Linked DNA regions of Homo sapiens. The protein of the gene in region 1 purifies or fractionates together with the protein of each later gene. This does not show direct contact. Each region holds a gene or a part of one and is shown in the gene's direction. Other genes may lie near its edges.

What was found. Proteins that work in one complex are often made in the same cells at the same time.
Region 2: the proteins of MMS19 (region 1) and PRIM2 purify together in Homo sapiens (affinity purification with western blotting; 5 studies listed by BioGRID and IntAct, with this or other methods). This does not show direct contact.

What each region holds. Positions count from the first base shown.
Region 1 is NC_000010.11:97,495,106-97,502,895, reverse strand, and holds the start of MMS19 (MMS19 nucleotide excision repair protein homolog), read left to right. Parts: upstream 1-4,473; 5' UTR 4,474-4,511; coding exon 4,512-4,623; intron 4,624-7,790. Other genes in the region: UBTD1 (ubiquitin domain-containing protein 1), read right to left, coding at 3,623-3,692. UniProt on the Homo sapiens protein: Key component of the cytosolic iron-sulfur protein assembly (CIA) complex, a multiprotein complex that mediates the incorporation of iron-sulfur cluster into apoproteins specifically involved in DNA metabolism and genomic integrity.
Region 2 is NC_000006.12:57,320,630-57,327,629, forward strand, and holds part of PRIM2 (DNA primase large subunit), read left to right. Parts: intron 1-3,571; coding exon 3,572-3,651; intron 3,652-5,295; coding exon 5,296-5,416; coding exon of another isoform or gene 5,417-5,434; exon of another isoform or gene 5,435-5,738; intron 5,739-7,000. UniProt on the Homo sapiens protein: Regulatory subunit of the DNA primase complex and component of the DNA polymerase alpha complex (also known as the alpha DNA polymerase-primase complex) which play an essential role in the initiation of DNA synthesis.

The sequences.
Region 1 (7,790 bases):
TATATATACGTATATATATACATATATACGTATATATACGTATATATGTATACACACATACGCACACACACACATATGAGTGACAATCACAAAACTTGATGAGACGAGAGGACCTCTCCCTTCTCCCTAATGCAAGAATCCCTGACCAGACAGTATTGTGTCTCTGCTTTGTCTACCAAGTGACTAAGAAGGCAGAACTAAGGACAAAGGGTGACATTACAAGCCATAAAGATTTCACCTCAATAACTTTCTCGCTTTAAACAGCTGCCTTTGTGAAGATGATAAAACAGCTCTAATGATCTTGTATAACCCTCCCCCTTTCTGAAATATTGAAAGTGTGACCCAGAAAGGTTAGATGACTTGCCCAGGGTCACTGAGTTATAGGCCCAGGACTAGAACTCAGGTCCTAGCTCCCTGTTGAGGCTTTCTTCCCATTACATTAGTGCCAAAGGAAGGTAAGAGTTACAGTGGCGCTGGGGGAGTTTTAGGCATTAGTCTTACAACGTAAAACTATGTCCTTGTCAAAGGAAAAGCCACAGATGTTACAGGAATGCCAGGTGCACTGTGGAGTTAAGAAGGATTCCTTCCCTTGTACCAAATTTGTCATCCTACAGAGTTCCCCTCGGCTTTGGACTTTATGAATAAAGCTATTCATAGTAGGACCCACAGAACTAAAGCAATGATAAACTAGCAGGTAAAAAAAAAAATGCAGATATATGAAAAATGCAGATGGTAGGATGAAGTTGAGTTTGCTTTCTAAAATCAACAAATACTGAGTGCTACTTCTGTACAACTCATTGTGTTAAGTGCTGAATGTGTGTGTGTGCGTGAGAGAGACATATACTACAAGGATAAGACAGAACCCAGGTCTTCAAGGCTTGCAATGTAGTTGCTGATAAAAGACTGTAAACATCAAAGACATGATTAATAATACAGAGTACATAATTGTTAAGTAAGTGGCATAGATAATGTGTCTGCAGGAGTTCTCAGAAGGAGCAATCACTTCCACGGGGTGTGTGTGGTGGGGTGCGGAGGGAGGGGGAAATGGCAGACTTGTCAGGCAAGGTGCTTCAAACAAGGCACGGCACTTGAAATGAACCCAAAGGATGAAAGACTCTCGATAAGAAGGAAATGGCACGAGCAAACACTGGTGGTCTTAATGTCAGAGAAGGGAAAGAAATCAGGACTTAAAAGAAAGGACTGGCCCACACTTGAACAGCCTTGAAAGTTAAAGTACTTGTAGGAGTGGGAAAATGCAGAAAGGTGTTTTGTTGTTGTTGTTGCTGTTGTTTTGTTTTTTTTTGAGACAGAGTCTCGCTCTGTCACCCAGGCTGGAGTGCAGTGGCGCAATCTCAGCTCACTACAACCTCTGCGAAACTTCCAGTTCAAGCAATCTCCCTGCCTCAGCCTCCTGAGTAGCTGGGATTACAGGCGCCTGCCACCACCATGCCTGGCTAAGTTTTGTATTTTTAGTAGAGACAGGGTTTTGCCATGTTGGCCAGGCTGGTCTCGAACTCCTGATCTCAGGTGATCCACCTGCCTTGGCCTCCCAAAGTGCTGGGATTACAGGCATGAGCCACCACGCCTGGCCAAGTACAGAAACATTCTGAACACAGAACTATAAAATCTGGAAGAAGTTAATTTAACAAATGTCTTCTGTGGGGACAACTGTGTGTAGGACTGAATGATGACTGAAGATGAAGTTGCCTTTGGGGGGTACCTCACTTCAGCCTGAGACAAGGGTTGACTTGAGGTGAGAAGGGTACAAAGTAGGGTGGCAAGGGGCAGGTTTGCAAGTCCCGCGGAAGGAAGACCCAGCAGACCCCAATGACTGGCTGAGAGGCAGGCGACAAGGAAGCAGAGAAAGTCATGAGAGAAAGAGCTCTTCACAGCCTAAAGTTAGGCAGCTGGAAGAACATAAGAGTAAAGAAGGAAAGCTGGTGGACAGGGAGCGATGCAGAGCCTGGTTTTGGAGGTGTTAAATCTGGGAATATCTATATCACAGTGTCCAGTGGGCATCTAGAGATGGGGTTCTGGGGTTCAAGAGAGAAGAGCTGAAGTTTAAGCATAGGGGTATTCCCAATGGACAAAGAGTTGTGGGACTGAACAAGATTTCTCTGGGAGAGAGTGTAATGAGAGAAAAAACAGAATGTCAAACTTAAGCACCAGCGTGCCCCCAAGCTAGAAGGTGATGGTGGAAAGGGGTGTTCAGAAAGGAAAACCAAGACAGTCTGATGCCAAGAAAGGAAGGGGGGGAATGTCTCGTAGGAGAGAGTTGTCAACAGCAAAAAATGCTGCAAAATCAATTATGGGGCCTGAACACATATTTGTTGAACAAATGAATGAATGAAAGCAAGCCAGCCCTTGGTTTTGAGAGTCATCTCTCCTCAGCCAGAAGAATGGCCAGAGTTACCTTCAGACAAGAGAATTTCAATAAGTTTTACTGCATCCTTCCCATAAAAACACATTTCTGCCTCCACAAGTCATCCTGTCCACCATGCAGACATCCTTCCCTGCTTCCCCTGGTTCCCCCATCTTCCTTCCCAGTTTCCGCAACCCAAGCAACACACCTTCGGTGTCAAGGGAGACAGGAAACTCCAACTAGAGTTTCCACTTCATTAACAACTCTGCCTGTGGCTCCTCTTACATAAGGGGATATGTGGCAATGGGGTGGGAGAGGAGGCTGAGTTCTAGCCCCAGGTGAGCTCCTAACTAGCTGTGTGACTTTGGACAAGGTGTTCAACCTCTCAGGATCTGGGCTTTGACACAGAGTAGGAGATGGGTCCATCTGGAATCCAGACAAGTTTGAGCTCTCAAGTCTACGATATTATTCCCAGCGGGTCCTTGCAACACCCTCAAAGAAGGAAGTGAGTGTAAGACCCAGAAAAATGACCGACAGACCTCTTCCCGGGGCGAAATGCCAGGGCAGGCGGGGTGTACCATGAAAGTGAGAAAGCGTTGCGCGGGCCTGGAGGATCACCAGCGAGCGATCTCACTCCCAAAGCTGGGAAGGATCCCAACAATCCCAAGGGTGACTCTCACCCCGCACCCCATCTTTTATAGACTCCCAGACGGCCGAGAGGCTCTAAAAACCCCTGCGGGAAAAATAAAGATTTCTTTCCCAGAGTCCTGCGCTGCTTTGCAAGTCGGATTCCCGCAGACACGATCTGCAGCTCGATAATGACACAGTCTTTGGAAGGAGCGACTGTTCTCGCCTCGCTCGCTCCGAGTTCTGGGGACGCCTGGCTGCCCGCGCCGTGCCCCGACGGGCCGGCGTCCGACCCCGGCCGGAGCTGCCAGGCCAGCGGCGCCCTCGCCCCCGGCCTCCTCCCGATCCGTCGGCCCCGCTGCGGTCTGCAAACATTTCCTGCCCCCACCCCCACCAGGAGCTACCCAGTTGGAGAGAGTTGGTCGCGCAGCCGGCTCAGTGCTCGCAGTTGCCCCAACTCAGCTCCCCCGGCCGCCCGGCGCTGGGGAGCGGCCCCCTCTGGCTGCGGAGCAGCCCATCGGGGAAACCCAAGCGCCAGCACCAGTGGGGAGTCCATCGGTAAGCCCAGGACTCGGGCGAGGAGGGGGACAACTGGCGGGATGCCCGAGGCCCTGCTCCCTTCCCCATCGTTACCTGCTCGCTTGCGGGGGTGTCCCGGGGCTGCCGGCCTCTCCCGGCGCTGTCTCCCCACGCAGTTGCCCATGCTGGCTCCTCAGCCAGTCCCCATGCACCGGAGGCGGCGGGGTGGTCGGCTGCTCAGCGGACGGCGGCGTCCCGGGTCAATGGCTCCGGCCGCCCGGCATCGGGCGCTCCCCGATCTCCCCCCGGGGGCGCGCTCAGCCCCAGCGATGGCTCCGCCAAAACTTTGCGGGCCAGGGGAGAGAGGGAAGTGGCAGACTCCCCAGCACGGTCCCAGGTGGCCGGGCCAGGGGGGCCCGCGACGGTGCCCGGCCGGAGACCAGCTCCGCTGGAGGGGCGGAGAGAGGGGGCGGGCACCGCCGCAGCTACTCCCGGCTCGCTCGGGGCACCAGGCAGGGGCCGGCCCCCTGGAGCCTGTCACTCACCTGCCTAACCCCGCCCCAGGCCGGCCCCTCTCCCTTCCGCCGGCTCGCGGTGCCCGCGCCGCCGCCACCACCCGCCCCAGGTGCGCATGTGACCGACAGCACCGCCCCCTAGGGCTGGGCCTGATTTTCTCATTGGCTTCCCCCGTGGTGCGTACCGCCCCTCTCCCCACCCAGCCAGGTGCCCGCCCCGCAGCCCGTCTCCCGGGGAGCCGGGCTGGGAATTATTCGCCCTCAATCGCCTCCGGCTGCGTGCCCAGCAGCCGCCTTCCCTCTCGGTGCCACCGCCCCATTTCAGGCCCCGCCCCTCCCTGGAACTGCCTAGGCAGAAGCCGGCAGGCACGTGACCCCGGCGCCCCGCCCCCTTGCGCTTCCCCGGAGATTGGCTCGGGAGGCGCATGCGCGGAGAGCCCGTCTCGAGCCACCGCCCATATCCCCTCCCACGGTCTCTAGTTCGCGTTATGGCCGCTGCCGCGGCTGTGGAGGCGGCGGCGCCTATGGGTGCCCTATGGGGCCTCGTGCACGACTTCGTCGTGGGTCAGCAAGAGGGCCCCGCTGACCAGGTGGCTGCAGGTACGGCAGACGGCGCCGCGCGCCTTCCGCATGGGGGCCAACAGGAGGGAGCGGCCTCAGTACAGGCGCCGGGCGGGAAGGGAGGAGCGGGGTGACTTTGAGAGATTGGTCTCAAGGCTGGTTAGTGAGCACCGCGAGGTTCAGAGCCGTAACAAGTTAGAGAGTTGCCTGTGTCTTCCTTAAAACCATTTACACTTCTCATCTCCCTGTAGCCAATTATAGGGAATCATTACATTTTACAGATGAGGAAACTGAGGCTCAGCGAGGGCAAGAGGACTTGCGCAGGGCTGCAGACCAGGCAGGAGGGGGAGGTGGGACTCGGACCCAGGCGTTCAGGTCCGAACCGGGTGCTCACGCCACGAAGCCATGCTGTTTGTGGGAGGTTGACGTGTGGAGGTGCATCCTCGCAGCGTCCGCTCCCGTCGCGTGGCATCCTGGGAGTGGCAGATGGCCCCGCGCTCTGACTGGCTGGAATTAAGAGGAGTTGAGGAGACGGGCCAGGAGGAGCTGGAGATGTTCTGGGTGTCCTCCTTAAGACTTTCTCTCCGTTTCTTGCTAAAGTTCTTGATTAGTTTGCTCCATGACGTTTTATGTGGCGTTTGTTTTTGTCTTCTTCCCAGACCCCCACTTTCCTGCTTTTGACCAGTTCAGAGATCTCTTAGTTCAGACAGCTTATCTAAAATTAGAATAAAACGATTTCCAGGCTTCCGTGGAGTTCTGAGACTTTGCTCTTCTAGGAAAAAAAAAAAACTACTAAAAAGTTATTGAATGTTAGGAGGCCTTCAGATCTTGGGTTTAAGTAACAATATAAAATTATCTAATGAGTAGTTTTTTTAAAAAAACTTTGGAAATTTCGTATGCTTGGAGAGAAGTAAGGACACATTTCTCTTGGATATTGAGCGTATTAACCTTTAGAATATGTAAGAAAAGAATAGTGAATCTGCTAGAAATATAATACTTTGTTCGTTAGCAGTATTCCACTTTAATTCAATCATGCCACTATTGTTGAATACATATTATTCCCCAAACATGATGCAAAGCAATAGGAATATAAATACAAATTAGGTTAGATCTGTGCCCACCAGGAACTTATAGTATGCTGGGAGAGGCAACCATTCTGTAAGAGGTGTGTGCAGCGTAGTTTGGAAGCATCAAGGAGCAAATACCTGGTGCTGCCACCAAACTTAACATCTTACAATTTTATGAAATGTAGTGTGTTATCAGTGTTTACAATTTACAAGTACAGTGTCTTACCAATGTCATTTTCCCTCATATTTTATTATGAAAATTTTCGAATATCCAGCCAAGTATAAAGAATTTTATAAGGAGCACATCACTTAGGATCTATCCTACCATTAACATTTTAATATTACTTGCTTTATCATATAGCTATCCATCCATTTAAATTGCAGATACCTGTACACTTTCCTTTAAATACTTTGGCATGCATGTCATTGACTAGAGTTTGTTGACGGTTTATTTTGATGTAAAATGGAATATATAAACCTTTAAGTGTACGTTCACTGATTTTGACTAATGCATACACCTATACAATCCAACCCCCTACGAAGATATAGAACATTACTATATCAGTGTCATTTGTGATGAGTCTTTCACATTTATGCGATACGAAAACAATAATTTTGGATTTTTTTTTGATTCAGAACATATTTTGAAAAGACATCTTGAATGTCTTATCTTGAATAAGGACTTATCTTGAATAAGGACTGCAAATTCTTCTCTTTTTTTTTTTTTTTTTTTGAGACAAGGTCCCTCTCTGTCTGCCAGGCTGGAGTGCAGTGGTGAAATCATGGCTCACTGTAGCCTCGACCTATGCTCAAGCAATCCTCCTGCCTCAAGCCTCCCGAAGTAGCTGGGACAACAGGGAGTGTGCCACTGCGCTCGGCTAATTTTTGTATTGTAGTGACGAGGTTTCACCATGTTGCCTAGGTTGGTCTCTAACTCCAGGACTGAAGCCATCCTCCCATCTCAGCTTCCCGAAGTGCTGGGATTACAGGCATGAGCCACTGGGACTGCTAAATTCTTACAAACGTTTTTGCAAAATTTATATTTTTGTTTCTTTCTGAAAAAAAATGGTCTAAACTGTTGCTTAATTTGAATTCAACTCAACTGATTTAAGACTGTAACACTAGCCCTGTTGTAATTTAGCCCTCCTAAGAAAAGAAAGTTGGTGGTGGGCACAGTGGCTCACGCCTGTAATGCCAACACTTTGAGAGAACAAGGTAGGCGGATTGCTTGAGCCCAGGAGTTTGAGACCAGCCTGGCCAACATGGTGAAACCCCGCTCTACTGAAAATACAAAAATTAGCCAGGCATGGTGGTGCATGCCTGTAATCCCAGCTACTCAGGAGGCTGAGGCTGGAGAATCGCTTGAGCCTGGGAGGCAGAGGCTGCCGTGAGCGGAGATCGCGCCCCTGCACTCCAGCCTGGGCAACAGAGCGAGACTCCGTCTCAAAAAAACAAAAAGAAAAGAAAGTTGGTACAAAGGAATAGTAACAGATAAAAGTTGAAAAGGTTTGGTAGGGTTGGATTGTGTATAACTTTGGATTCCAGGCAGAGAAATTTGAATGACCTGTTATCTGTACTAAGAGTTGTTGTAGATCCTTGAGCCAGGGAGCCATAAAATGAAAACAAATTTGACAAGGATTAAGTTAATATTGTCAATCTTAGATCACAGCCCTAGTTAGGGTTGTTGAAGGATAACAGAGTGTTGAAGCGTTTATAGAATAAGATGTGCTTTCTAATCTTTCAGCCTAAATCAAGCTTTGTTAGCGCTAAAGGGACCAGCTAGCTTCCTGTTCAGTCACTCAGAGTAGCAGCCTGCAAATTTAAATGCAGAAGGAGCACCCTTTGATCACAAAAGCAGCTGCTGCCACCTTTGTTTTGTACCTGGGTTCCTGGTGAAAGTGTCAGCTGTAAAGAAGCTGCAGGCGATGGGAGGGAAATAACCTGGCAGCCTAAGGGTTAAAGGCCTCTTGGGCAAGCCTTCAAAGCCTGCCACTACCTGGCCCCAGCCTTTTTTTCTCACTGCTCCCTGGACGTTTAATTCCAGGCAGCCACCTTTATTCGTAGTTCCCTGAGTGCTTTCCTTCCCAATTCCCTTCACTAGCTCTGTGTAATCGAAGTTAGACCTGAGAGTCAAGGCCC
Region 2 (7,000 bases), on another chromosome or scaffold:
AAGATATTATATTAGGCACTGGGCTTTTATAAAGACTAATGTATCATTAGCCTGAAGGTTCTTCAGTGTATTAGGGGTGATTGACATGAAGTCAGATGATTATAATATGGCAGGGTTTCTCAACCTCAGGACTAACATCATTTTGGGTCTGATAATTCCTTGTTGCAGGGATTGTTCTGTGCACTGTAGGATGCTCAGTAGCATCTCTGGCTTCTACCCCTACATATTTCCAGACATGCCAAATGTATCCCGTGCAATACAGGATGATGACTGTGTTTATAGATGCATGCTCCAGGAACTCCAAAAACATACATAATTATGCAGCTCAGATTGGGGAGGTTTGGGAAGGCTTTCCAGAAGAGGTAGTAGTGGAGCTGCATGTTGACAGATGTGATTAGATTTTCATTTTGGGAAGATGACTGCCAGCAGCAGATTGACAGGGTCATGTCTGTTAGGAGGGAAACCAGTTAGAAGCCCGGAAATGATGAGAGTCTGAATTAAATGAGAGAAGGGGACCGGTTGAAGAGACATTAAGAAGGTAGAATCAAAAGGTTTTAGTGACTGATTGTAGGGGGAATGGAGAGAGAAGAGTTATAAATGACACCCAGGTTTCTAGTTAGGAAAATTAGTGGATGGTGGTAATATTTTGAGATGTGATATGCAGGAGGAGAAGCAAGTCTTGGAAGACGTAGAGTTTAGTTCTTAACATGAATTTGAGGTGCCTGTGGAGATGTCTAGTGGACAATTGGATATACAGGTCTGAATATACAGGAAGACATGTGGTGGGAGTAGATTTAGCAGAAGGTTGGAATCATCAGGAGTAGGTAAGAGCACCCTAGAAAAATATTTGAGTGAGAAGAGATGACAGTGGAAGTTAAGACATGAGGAATACCAATATTGAAGGTAAAGTGGAATTGGAGGAATTTGGGAAGGAGAATGGAAAGGAGCTTTCTCAGAAGTAGGAGATGAACCAGGATAGTAGTGTCATAGAAGCCAAGGAGGGCTAGAGTTTCAATAATAATGATCATGATATTAATAATGATAATAGGGAATAACAGCAGATATTTATATTAATAGTATGTTTGCTATGTACCAGATTTTGTTCTAAGTGCATTACATATATTAACCCATGTATGTAATTCATACAGCAGTCTTATGAGGTGGGTATTATTATCATCCCTATTTTACAGATACAGCCTATTTATTCACAGACTGAATAACTTGCCCAAGCTCATAAGATGGTAAATGGTGGAGCCAAGATTTGAATCTGGGTATTTTGTTTCTGTAGTGGTGCTTTTAACCACAATAGTTTCAGAAGCTTAAGATAGATTATGTAAGATGAATTGTACAGTGTCCATTGGATTTAGCAGCTGGATGGGCCCTTATAGATAGGGGCAGAGACCAGAACAATGACAGTGGTTGGAGAAGGAAGGTGGAGCGGTGGATATAGAAGATGTACTTTTTTAAAATGTGTAGCTGAAAAGAGAAGAGAAATAGGGCAGAATATAGGGGTTGTTTTAGGGAAAAGAGAAGATATACAAGCACACACTTGTACATATATGACAGGAGATACTTAAACATGTTTATAAGCTGAGCAGAAGATCTAGAATAGAATGGGGAAGAGGGGAGCTTGAAGTTGAAACTTTGAGAGAGCATTTGATAAGTCAGGGTCTTTAAGAGGCACAAGCAAATGGGTTGCGGGGTTTAGGTGCAGGAATTAGCTTTTCATATGGTTTGGCTGTGTCCCCACCCAAATCTCATCTTGAATTGTAGTTCCCATAATCCCCATGTGTCATGGGAGGGACCCGGTGGGAGGTAATTGAATCATGGGGGTGGTTACCCCCATGCTGCTATTCTAGATAGTGAGTTCTCACAAGATCTGATGGTTTTATAAGGGGCTTTTCCCTATTTTGCTCAGCACTTCTCCTTACTGCCACCATGTGAAGAAGGACGTGTTTGTTTCCCCTTCTGCCATGATTGTAAGTTTCCTGAGGTCTCCCCAGCCCTGGGGAACTGTGAGTCAGTTAAACCTCTTTCCTTTTATGGGTTTACTCAGTCTTGGGTATGTCTTTATTAGCAGCATGAGAATGGACTAATGTAGCTTTACATGCCAGGAAGAGGAGATGCTTTGTAGAGATGTATGGAAGGCAACACAACATGTGTATGCGGAAGCTTGGGACTGAAGGATTCTGCCTGGTAGCCTTTATTTTCTGTAAAGTAGGTGAAGTCATCTGTTCAGAGAGAAGGGAAAGGTGCTATAGTAGGGGTCTTGGGACAACTGGTGAAGACTGACGATTTTCTGAGAAGTGAGGAAGGAGATGATTTTGTGTCGAATCTCAACACTGCTGCTTACTCTGGACAAGCTTTGTGACCCTGAACAAGTTACATAACTTCTCTGTGCCTCAGTTTCCTTATCTGTAAAATAAGATTATAGTAGTGCCTCCCTCATAGGGTTTTTTTTTTTTTAAAGGATTAAATGGGTTCATGCCTTAAAAATTCTTAGGGCACCGCCTGGTACCTAGTGAGTGCTCAAGACATGTTTGTTCTTATTATTTTGGATCCAACTGTTGGTAAGGATCTAGTTGAGATTATAGGCCACGAAATTATATTTTCCAAATTCCCATAGTTGTGTTTTTTCTCCAGAGGTTCTTAGCATTTTGAGAATAGGACTGCAGAGTGTAGTTGTAGATTAAGAATCTAGGTTTTGCCAAATGGTTGAAATTAAAGAAGCTGAGGTTGGTGTAAGAAGTGGTTGAGGTGGTGAGCACCTTGGATATAGGCTGGATAAGAAGAAAATTAAAAGAGAGGGGTTGGTGGGAAGAAAATAGTGCGGTCCAAACTCAAGGGGTTTTGTCAAGATTAGTTTACTTCTCGGTTTCATCTGATTGATAGCTTAAGGTAAATGATAATTATCCTGAAAAGCATATTAAGAAATGTTTTGGCAATGAGAACACATGGACACAGGGAGGGGAACACCCCACACCAGGGCCTGTCAGGGGGTTGGGGTCAAGGGGAGAGACAGCATTAGGACAAATACCTAATGCATGTGGGGCTTAAAACCTAGATGACGGGCAGCAAACCACCATGGCACACGTATACCTATGTAACAAACCTGCACATTCTGCACATGTATCCCAGAACTTAAAGTAAAAAGGAAAAAAAAAAAAGAAATGTTTTGGGACTGGGTGTGGTGGCTCATGCCTGTAATTCTAGTGCTTTGAGGGACTAGAGTAGGAGTCTTGAAACCAGGAGTTCATAACCAGCCTAGGCAACATATTGAGACTCCATCATACAGAAGATAAAAAATTAGCGGGGCATGGTGGGTGTCGCTTGTAGTCCCAGCTGCTTGGGAGGTTGAGGCTGGAGGATCACTTGAGCCCAGGAGTTTGAAGTTACAGTGAGCTGTGATTGACCACTACTCTCCAGTCTGGGTGGTAGAGCAAGACCCCATCTCTAAAAAAAGAAATGTTTTTGAAACTTACTTTACCATTGGCTTAGGCTGGCTCAGTATTTCCTTACACCTCTTACCATTCTAATGCATTTATTTTATTCATGTGTCATTATTTTTAAGGAAAACTTAGAAGATGAATATGAACCACGAAGAAGAGATCATATTTCTCATTTTATTTTGCGGCTTGCTTATTGCCAGTCGTAAGTATATGTTTATATTCTCACAGTCAAATCTGGTGTCATGGGTTATAAATTGGTGTGTGGTAAGTTGATGTGTTGTGCTAAACATAGGAAAACCCAGAATAACATCAGGAGCCGGTTGATCATGGGGTTGAACACTGACAGTAAATTGTTTGGAAGAAATTGTTTACTTAAAAATATTGAAAAAAATTCTATCGCAGAATTTTGCCTGATGAAACACTTCTTAAGTTTGTGAGATAGACTCTTCATTTGGGATTTTAAATTGGAAAGGATTTTATTGGGAAGAAGGACTTTTGATATTTTTCCTGCAAAAAAATGGTAATATTTATAAGAAACAATTAATGAAACCCACACTTGAATTTGATACAGGTTTTTGGAATTTGAGCTCTATGGGCCAGTTAAATCGAAGATATTTTTGTTTGGTAGTTGGTTTCTTTTAAGTTAATAGTGCCACCCAGAGGTAGTAAAGTTAGTTGCTTTTTTAAAAATTGTTTTTCCCTCACATGTTAATTTTGGTCACATAATTTAGTTATGGCTGTCTTTTTTTAAAATTAATAAGCTTATCAAGTGAGACTCTGGAATTGCTTACTATCCCAAGATAATAATTGAGAAATTACTTACCAGTTTTGGTTCTAGAGTTTTTCTTCTGTAAAAAAGCATATGTAGTTTGTGAAATTTATATAATAAATATGTTGCTGACAATCTGTGAAAATCTCCTAAAAATGTGAAATCATATTTTGCATCCAGTAGGGTAATTATTTTATTATATAACGATAATGCCCATTAGTATCTGCCTTATAAATGAACGTTATTGCTTTTAAATATTGTGGTATATATGTGCATATTAAATTTTGTGAAATTATCAATTATAAAGCCATAAGCAAAGTTTCCTTTGCAAAGTTAATCTGATCAAAGTTGCCTTAAAAAATTTGGTGTCTTTTATTTGGCATTTATAAAGACACCTCAAGCCAAAGGAGTGCCCCATTTCCCCATTTTCTTTTTTTTTTCTCTTTTCTCTCTCTCTCTTTTTTTTTTTTGAGCTAGGGTCTCATGCCATTACCTAGGCTGGAGTACAGTGGTGTGATCTCGGCTCACTGCAGCCTCAACATCCGTGGGCTCAGGTGATCCTCCCACCTCAGCCTCCTGAGGAGCTGGGACTATAGGCACATGCTACCATGCCTGGCTAATTTTTTTGTAGATATGGGGTTTTACCAACTTGCCCAGGCTGGTCTCAAACTTCTGGGCTCGAGCAATCTGCCTGCCTTGACCTCCCAAGGTGCTGGGATTACGGGCATGAACCACGACGCCCAGCCCCTATTTTCTAACATAAAATGAATATTTTGCAGTTACATTAAATGCATGAAGTATTTTATGTTATTTAAAAATAATGCAGCTAGTCTCGAAGCATTCTTGTATTTAATCTTTTTAATTTTTAACACCCCCTATACCTTGTACCCAACCCATCCTTAGAAGATTGTGATATGTGGTATTGATATTCTCCTTACCGTGATAGAGGACTTGCATGTTTTTAACTGCTGTCCATTGGCATCTTGCTGATGTTTGAATATTGTTTTATAAACATTTCTTAGATTTAATAATTACTGGATTTTTAGTTTGTACTCATAATTTCTGTCTTCATTTCAGTGAAGAACTTAGACGCTGGTTCATTCAACAAGAAATGGATCTCCTTCGATTTAGATTTAGTATTTTACCCAAGGATAAAATTCAGGATTTCTTAAAGGATAGCCAATTGCAGTTTGAGGCTGTAAGTATATTTTTGTAGTTATTTCTAATTGTTCTCACCATTCATTTTTCCCTTCTGTCTTAAGTGCTGGTACTAATGTGTAGTGTGTTCTCTTTACATTCTCCAAGTACCTGCCTGAAACAGTAGCTAATAGCTTTGGATAACAATATATCTTTCCTTCTCTATGACTAGAAGAAAAGGACTCCTTAATAACAAAGTCTCACACTTACTTGCTCTGTTAAATGTGTGCTTTATTAAAGCACAAGAAGGTTTAGTTTATAAAGGTTCATCTTTAACCAAAATTTTGTCGGCCAAAATAAAGCTAATAATGTGTTAAACTAGACAAGTGGTAGTTTCTTATTTATAGTCGTGAAATTTAGAGGAGGTAATACTTTATTTAAAAGTCAGTTGTCAGGCGGGGCGTGGTGCCTCACACCTGTAATCCCAGCACTTTGGGAGTCTGTGGTGGGCAGATCACTTGAGGTCAAAAGTGCGAGACCATCTTGACCAACATAGTGAAACCCCCACTCTACAAAAAATACAAAAATTAGCCAGGCATGGTGCTGCGCGTCCATAATTCCAGCTAGTCAGGAGGCTAAGGCATGAAAATTGCTTGAACCCGGGAGGTGGAGGTTGCAATGAGCTGAGATCATGCCGCTGCACTCTAGTCTGGGCGAAAGAGCAAGACTCCGTCTCAAAAAAAAAATAAAAACCATAAATCAAAAATGTCAGTAAGATCTGTATGAATAGTTTTAAAAAATAATTTTGCAGACATATCTGAATGATTTACATATTGTAATTATATAAAAAAAGAAGAGATCTTTGGGACTCATTTAATGGGGATGAGTATTGGAAATAGAATTTGTATCTTTTTTTTTTTTTTTTTTTTTTTTTTGAGATGGAGCCTCACTCTGTCATCCAGGCTGGAATATGCAGTGGCCTGATCTCGGCTCACTGCAACCTCCACCTTCTGGGTTCAAGCGATTCTCCTGCCTCAGCCTCCTGAGTAGCTGTGACTACAGGTGTGTGCCACCATGCCTGGCTAATTTTTGTATTTTTAGAGACGTAGTTTTGCCATGTTGGCCAGGGTGGTCTTGAACCCCCTGACCTCAGGTGATACACCCGCCTCGGCCTCCCAAAGTGCTGGGATTACAGGTGTGAGCCACCGTGCCGGGCCTAGAATTTATGTCTTTTAGGTAGATATATGCCACAATGGGAATGTAGAAACATTATGTTTTGGAAGTTTTAGAGCAGTCAGATGGTAGTAGGACTGGCAGAGACTCTATTTTGTTGTTGGAATGCGTGGCTTAAAGCCAAATAAAATAAAAAAGTAGAAGTTGCAATAGGTGAAAGACATTGTCCTGTCTGACAAGTAGAAGACATATCCACTGTAGCAAGGAACACTATGGAGTATATGAGTTAGGGAAAAGAGACTGTGAAGGGAAGTGAACAAACATTTTGTAGACGTTTAGTGTCAAATATATGCTAGGTAGGCAGTTTCTATAGTTTCTTTCATTTACTTCATGAGGTTTCTAAGTCACATCTACCTTTGCATAGACAGATGTCATGCATGGTACCATCTGAACCAAACCCACTGCATCTTCC